Homo sapiens: one gene and its partner. The protein of the gene in region 1 purifies or fractionates together with the protein of each later gene. This does not show direct contact. Each region holds a gene or a part of one and is shown on either strand. Other genes may lie near its edges.

Region 1 (4,037 bases):
TCCCCATTTCTTTTGTGGTATCTCCCCCTACCACAAACCAGGCTGGAACCCAAGCCCCTTCCTCCACAGCTGCCTTCAGTGGGTAGAATGGGGCCAGGGCCCAGCTTTGGCCTTAGCTTGACGGCAGGGCCCCTGCCATTGCAGGAGGGTTTGGTTCCCACTCAGCTTCTGCCGGTCGGCAGCCTGGGCCAGGCCCTTTTCCTGCATGTGCCACCTCCAGTGGGAAACAAAACTAAAGAGACCACTCTGTGCCAAGTCGACTATGCCTTAGACACATCCTCCTACCGTCCCCAATGCCCCCTGGGCAGGAGGCAGTGGAGAACCAAGCCCCATGGCCTCAGAATTTCCCCCCAGTTCCCCAAGTGTCTCTGGGGACCTGAAGCCCTGGGGCTTACGTTCTCTCTTGCCCAGGGTGGGCCTGGTCCTGAGGGCAGGACAGGGGGTTTGGAGATGTGGGCCTTTGATAGACCCACTTGGGCCTTCATGCCATGGCCTGTGGATGGAGAATGTGCAGTTATTTATTATGCGTATTCAGTTTGTAAACGTATCCTCTGTATTCAGTAAACAGGCTGCCTCTCCAGGGAGGGCTGCCATTCATTCCAACAGTTCTGGCTTCTTGCTGTAGGACCAAGGGGTTGCCCTGGAGGAGGGGTGGGGGCCCCGGCCTCGGCATGGCTACTCTAGGAAGAGCCACTGCTACTCAAGGAGTCACTCAGCCCCTTCTGTGCCAGAAGTCCAAGTAGGGAGTCGGACCCTCAACAGCCTCTTCTTTCTCCTGAGCCAGGAAGACAGACATGAATGCATGATGGGACAGGGCCTGGGTCTTTAATGGGTTGAGCTGGGGAGGGCCTGTGGTGAGCTCAGTTGTAGGCTATGACCTGGTTGATCCAGGTGCTGAACTTGCTAACTCGAGTATACACAGCAGGTGCGCGCACATTGCAGTTTTTGGTGCCCCAGGAGACAATACCAATAAGCACCCATGTGTTTCCCTTCTGGCAGACAAGAGGGCCTCCGGAGTCACCCTGAGAGGGAAGAGGGAGGGAGAATTGAGTAGGGGGGGTTGGGGAGGTATACCACAGGACAGCGCAGAGGAGCGGGTGCTGGGGCTTACCTGGCACGAGGAGGCACCTGCGCCACCTGCACAGATCATGGAGTCAGTGATACTTGAGCCCCAGTACTGCCGGCACTGATTCACAGTGACCAGGGGCAAAGCCACCTGCTGCAGATGTGCTGGTGTCACATTGCCTGTGGGCCAGGAGGGGTGGTCACATGGGGCCCAGAACACTGGTCCCCACCCCAGTCCTCCCACCCTGAGCTTTGGCCTGAGTCCCTACCCACGCCACTGAGGCGACCCCAGCCGGTGGTGACACACGTGAGGCCTTCAGTCAGAGCCTCGTTTGAGGATGCCAGGCAAACTGGCGAGATGCGTGTTGTGTACTGGGCTGGCGAGGCGAGCTTCAGCAGCGTCACGTCATTGTTCATGGTGGTAGAGTTCCAGCTAGGGTGTGTAATGGCCTGTGGGGTCAGAAACAGTCCATGTTCTGATGGGTGCTGAGCAGGGTAGGCCAGGGCATGTCCTGAATTCCTCGTTCCCAGCACCCACCCACCTGCACTGCCCACTTTTCCTCCGTGTCTGCAGCCCAGGCACTCACCCGAGAGACGGACAGAACCTGCAAGGGCTCTGCGTTTGATGATCGGTCATACTCGCCCAGGACAACAAAATGGCGGCCAGGGCTGCAAGGGGGTGGGATTAGGCAGCTGCAGGGAGGCCAGCGCGAGAGGGGGACAGCCAGGGGAGGAGGCAGGAAGAGGCGAGGGGCGGGGCAGGTGGAATGCAGGCACTCACCTGACATTGCAGTGGGCAGCAGTGACCACCCAGGACTGGCTGATGAGAGAACCACCGCAGAAGTGGAAGCCGCTGCTGTCCTGTGGTCAGGGCTCAGAGGTCAGAGTGGGGGTGGGCTGCTGAGGCTGCCCCTAGGCATGACGTACCCAGGACCCTGCCCACCCCTCTGGTGGTGTACCTGCAGGGACACCTGCCAGGGCCAGGAGCCCAACACTGCATTCTCCCCGTTGACAATCCTCTGGCTGAAGCTCAGTGCCGGTTTGATGGCAGGAATGCCGCAGCCTGGCCATTGGGCTAATGAGGACCTGCTTCCCATGCCTCAGCCCATCTTTCCCCACCTCCTTTTGGGTGCCCCAGGCTGTGCACCCCAGAGAGGTCTGTCGAGAGGGTACAGCACTACCCCTTCCCCAACAGGGTACATGCAAGCACCTTCGGGCCCCACAGCTATCTTGGTTATCCCTATCCACCCAGTCCCCCAGCCCTGCTGTTCTCCTACATCTGTCTCCAGCCTAGTCCCCGCTGTTCCCCATCTCTACCCCTGGTCTCTCTGCCCCCTCCCGACCTGAACAGTTCATACCCTTCATGCAGCCAGAAGGTTCTTTCTAAAAGACATGGACAGGTCTTCCTGTCTCAGCTTCCTAAACCCTCCCGGGCTCCAGGGCCTGGCTCAATCTCTGGTCCTATTTGTGAGACCACCCCACCTCTTGCCCCCTCCCAGCCCTGCAGGCCTGTTCCCTGCTCCACTGCCCTGGCATATCCTGTTTCTTTTGCCCACTCTGTCCACCTTCGTCCCTTCCAGCCAGCCTAGCTCCTTCCCTGGGCTGTTGCTGGGAGCTGAGTTGCTCCCAGGGCTGAATCAGGGCTGGTCCTGGCCCACTCACCCCAGGAGGAGCCGAGGAGAACCAGGCTTAGGGTCAGGCTGAGCAGCAACATCGTGGCAGATGTGAGGTTGGGAGCTGGGTCTGGCTTTATGGGTCTTCTCGTCCTTGAGCTAAAGCTCCAGGCCTGAGGCCAGGCCAGCTGTGTAGACTCAGCCCCCTCCCACGCTCCAGGCAAGACAGGCCCTTTAGGCCAAGGTCCCCTGACCGAGACCTAGACTTATCAGACAGAGCCCAGGTGTGAGACTCACCTCTGCCACCTCCCAAAGCCTGGCCTCTAATTGGCTCCCAGAACCACCTCCCATTCCAAATGTTGAGCCCTCGGTACTGAGGACAGATGGTTAAATTAGGTCTATAGTGACAACCTGGTGGCTGGGATCACAGGAGTCACCCAGGGCTAACAAAGGCACCAGGCTTTCAGAGAAGGCCGCTCAGCGTCCAGGGTGTTCTGACTGGTGGATGGAATGCTCACTGCGGTCAACTTTGCTGTGAAGGGCCAGGGGCTGTGAGGTTCTGGCAGGCTGGGAGTCCTAACACATCATCGCAGTGGTTCCTCGTCCATTTGGAACAGGAGTCACAGGTCTGCTCAGAGATGGTGACTCTCCCACCAGCACGTGGTTGAGTTGTACACAAACTCGCATTTGTCTGGCGCTGAAGCCTCCGCTCTTAACAATGAGATGATACTTATGAAGGGCCTGGCATTTAGGAGGGCAAAGTGTGAGCTCTTGGTGCCTGGCCGACCGTGGACTGAGGCTGCAGGTGGAGAGTGACAGACATCAAATCTCTGCCACCCTCTTTAGGCCTTGGGGCTCCCATGGGCAAGCCCCTGGTGTCTGTAGCCCATTTGTTACTGAGCTGCAGACCAAGCTTGAAGGGAGAAGACACCCTGTGTGCAAAGTTCCAACAGGTGCATTGGCTGGCGGCCTTCTGGGAGTGTGAGGGCTTTAACTGATTCAAGAACAGATCAGGGCTGGGTGTGGTGGCTCACACCTGTAATCCCAAAACTTTGGGAGGCAGACGTAGGAGGCTTGATTCCAGGAGTTCGAGACCAGCCTGAGCAACATCATGAAACCCTGTCTCTACAAAAAAAATTTTTTTAAATTAAGAAATGAGCTGGGTATGATGGTACACACCTGTAGTCCCAGCAACTCAGAAGGCTGAGGCAGGAGGGATCACTTGAGCCCTTAAGTTCAAGGCTGCAGTGAGCCATGAGTGCACCACTGCATTCCGGCCTGGGCGATGGAGCTAGACCCCATCTCAAAGAAACAGCATCAGCCAAAAAATGAGATGAATTGGCTGGGCACGGTGGCTCA
Region 2 (3,500 bases), on another chromosome or scaffold:
GGGGACAGTGAACTGGAGCTCCTTGGGGGAAGGATACAGTCAGCATGTACCTGGCTGGCCACCCCTGTCCAATGCCAAAGCCACCAGGGAGCAGCTGAAAAGCAAGTTTCAGGGACACTCCTGGAAAATGGCTGCCAACGCAGCTGCTTACACATTCAAGCCAGGCACTGAGAACTCTGACTGTGGTCCCCACCTATCTCTTTATGCCTTCATCTTCCAGGCCACAGACACCTCAACCTCGTCTAAGGACATGTTGCTTCCCACCTCCCTGTCCAGCCACCCATCCCTCTCCAGGGATGATGGTACTGGGCTAGCCTACTCACCTCACCAAGTTACATGGGGCTCAAAACCACACCGTCGTGAAATACGTGGAAATGCTTTGCAAACTCTCAAGCCCTCTACAAATGCATCCGATTTGACAATTCTGCCAACAGATCACACGGGGAGCCAGAGGCTCCAGGCAGTGCTGAAAGATGGCCAGGCAGAAGGAATGGGCCAGCCCACCAGGGCTGAGCACTCCTGCTCCTTCCCTCTCCCGTTGGGACCTAAGATGCCAGGTGTTAAAAACAACAACACCACATACACACACACACACACACACACACACACACAGAAGGAGAGGTAGGGGGCAAATAAACCATCCCAAGTCCAGGTTATGTGGAAGAACCTCCGCCTCTCCTTATACCCCATGCATTCATTTCTGGCCCATTGTCACTCAGCCTCAAAGGCTACCACAACCACCAAGCAAGACACAAGAGCCCAACAGAATAAAACCACAAAGCTGGGGCAAAACCCTCCTGGGATACAGTGTGTTTGGTGTCTTCATTCTCAAGAGGGGATCTACTTTCAGAAGAAAGGGGAGAGAAACCAAGCACACTTACATCCTGAGCCCTTCTGCACCACCCCCCCTACCTGGGATCTCTGCAGCAGCCTGGCAGAGAGGAGGCAAGGAGGCAGTCAAGAGCTCAGCTCCAAGTAACTCCCGTGGGGAGAATCCTAGCTGCACAGGGGTACCCGTACCTGGCATTCAAATCATGCAGCCTCTCTCTGGCCCTTCCTTGCCCACCTCCTCCTCTTAACTGCCTTCCCCATCATCTCTTACTCAACAACTGGCAATGACTGCTGAGACTCCCAGTGACTGGGCACTTTCACGTGCCAAGCGCTGTGTTGGGTGCTTCCTGTATTTTTTCTAATCCTTTCAACACTGCAAGATGGATATCATTACCACCACTAACAAACAAGAAAACTGAGGCAGGGCCCAAGGTCACGCAGCTCCTGAGTGTCTAGCTGGCTAAAAGCCCATGTTCTTTCCACTACATAACACTTGAATTTATCTTGTAGATAACAGAGAGGAAAGTAAGGATGAAAGTGTTGTTCTGGGAAAATTAGTCTCTCCCCCTCCCACCCAACCCTACATGCGGCCTGATTGATCTTGTTATTAAAAGGGCAGCTTTCATCAAGTCTCTCCATTACCTACAGAATCGAGTCCCCCACAGCTTTGCCAGGCATTTAAAGTTCTTTACGATCCACTTTTTCAGTCTTACTCCCCTCATCCCCAGACTCAAACCCTCCCTCCATCCAGCCTGGCCTATCATTCCTCATTTCCCATGTCTCTGGCTTGGAAGGTTTCCTTCTCTGCCTGTGACATTAGTTCCATCAGCCAAACACGGACCGGGGCTGACGACATGCCAGGCCCTGGGCTAGGTGCTGGGGACACTACAGCCAGGACAGGGGGCTCCCTGCTGTCACAGAGCTCCAAGTCTGCCCTCCTTGTGAGGCCAGTCCACACCTTGCTCTTTCCTGGGGCCTTCTCTGATCACTCGGTGTCCCACTGCTTGGCCTCGTCCTGGATCCCCAGCACACAGGGGCTGCCACTCTTATGGCACTCAGCCACACTTCCACCTTATATGCCGGGTCTGTTTTAAGACTTCCGCTGTAATGTGTTTATTTCTGTGGGAAATGTGCACTACAGGTTCCAAACAGCATTTTAAATGGCAATTCAGTCCTCAGGCCAACCCACAAAAGCCTATTAAATATATAATCGTCCCAGAGAAGTACAGAACCTAAATAAGTGTACCTTAAAAGCTCTACAGGAGATGCCAGGAACAAACATCTGCCTCCTGCACCTCCACCCACTGTCCTCCAGGGTCTGAGCTTCAAGCGACCATCAGGGGCAGAGGCAGAGAAGCAGGCGGGAGATGGATGAGTGGGAAGAACCCGATTTACATTCAGCAGATCTGGCTCTTCTCCCAGCTCTGCCTTCACTAACTGGGTGGCCTTGAGTGAGTCCCTTCCCTCCCTAAGCCTCGCTATTCTCCTATAAAAGGAGAAGGCTGAGTTAGATCAGTTCTGAATCTCACAGATCAGCAGAATATATATATTTTTAAATATAAAATGGATTTTATATTATTAAAAATAAATTTTATCAAGAAAGGGCTTTTAAAAAGAAATCACAATATACTACAACCAGCCTCATTTTTCAAAGGGATGCTGTAACCCCCTCCCCCTCAAAATATCGTCATGTCAGAAAAATTGACAACTTTTTAAACTGAAAACATTTGCATTCATGAAAAACAAACAAACAAAAAAATACACCATTTTTTTTTTCCAGTTTGACTGCAGACCAGAAAACTCTATCCCAGCCCAGCTTCAGTCCTTGGCCCAATGCTTGAGAACCACTGAGCTAGGAGACCTAGAGTTCACTCCAGCTCGACGTTTCTCCATCCTACAGGCTGGATGGAGCCAACAGGACAATCAGCATGGACGGCCCTAGAGAAGAGTCAGCTGCAGGGATGAGCTGAGCTGGACAGCAGGAAAGCAGGCAGTCAGCGCAGGGATGGGAGCAGGGCAGCATGGCTCGGCAGGGATCGCCCTGTGCCCTAGGGCTACCTCCTGCCCCTGTGTCCAGGAGCACTTGGCAGGGAGGGCACCGCCACCCATAGCCTCTGAGGGCACAGACACCCAGCCTGGAAGCTCTTGGAACTAACCTGTCCCACGTGTTTGACAGTGACACCTTCCTCCCCAGTATTCTTTTGGAAGGCTAAGGGTTCCCAAAGCAACATTTTAAAAAATCTTTATTAACTTTTCTGATTATAAACTAATACATATTCATGTGAAAAACTTGGAATCCACAGAAAAGCATAAGCAAAGAAGCAGAAGTCATCACAACTCCACCTTCCAGAACAATGACTGTTAACATTTTGATGCACTAATTCTTCATACATGTAACTTCAGCCACCCTCAGATTTGGTTTTACATCCTGCTTTTCCCTTACTTATCACACTTGGGCATTTTTCCACATCCTTAGATATTCTTCATAAACATCATAAAATGTTTTCATAATAAACATAATATTCTGGTAAATAAAAATATTCTTTATAAACATTGCAATGGACTGAATATTTCTTCTTCTTCTTCTTCTTTTTTTTTTTTTTTGAGATGGAGTCTTGCTCCATCCCCCAGGCTGGAGTGCAGTGGCGCGATCTCAGCCCACTGCACCC

Evidence for each region. Proteins that work in one complex are often made in the same cells at the same time.
Region 2: the proteins of CTRL (region 1) and PDIA5 purify together in Homo sapiens (affinity purification with mass spectrometry, with the first as the bait; one large-scale study listed by BioGRID). This does not show direct contact.

Annotation. Positions count from the first base shown.
Region 1 is NC_000016.10:67,929,074-67,933,110, forward strand, and holds CTRL (chymotrypsin-like protease CTRL-1 precursor), read right to left. Parts: upstream 2,790-4,037; 5' UTR 2,780-2,789; coding exon 2,728-2,779; intron 2,129-2,727; coding exon 2,025-2,128; intron 1,927-2,024; coding exon 1,847-1,926; intron 1,735-1,846; coding exon 1,653-1,734; intron 1,516-1,652; coding exon 1,335-1,515; intron 1,246-1,334; coding exon 1,112-1,245; intron 1,023-1,111; coding exon 861-1,022; 3' UTR 501-860; downstream 1-500.
Region 2 is NC_000003.12:123,070,025-123,073,524, reverse strand, and holds part of PDIA5 (protein disulfide-isomerase A5 precursor), read right to left. Parts: intron 1-3,500.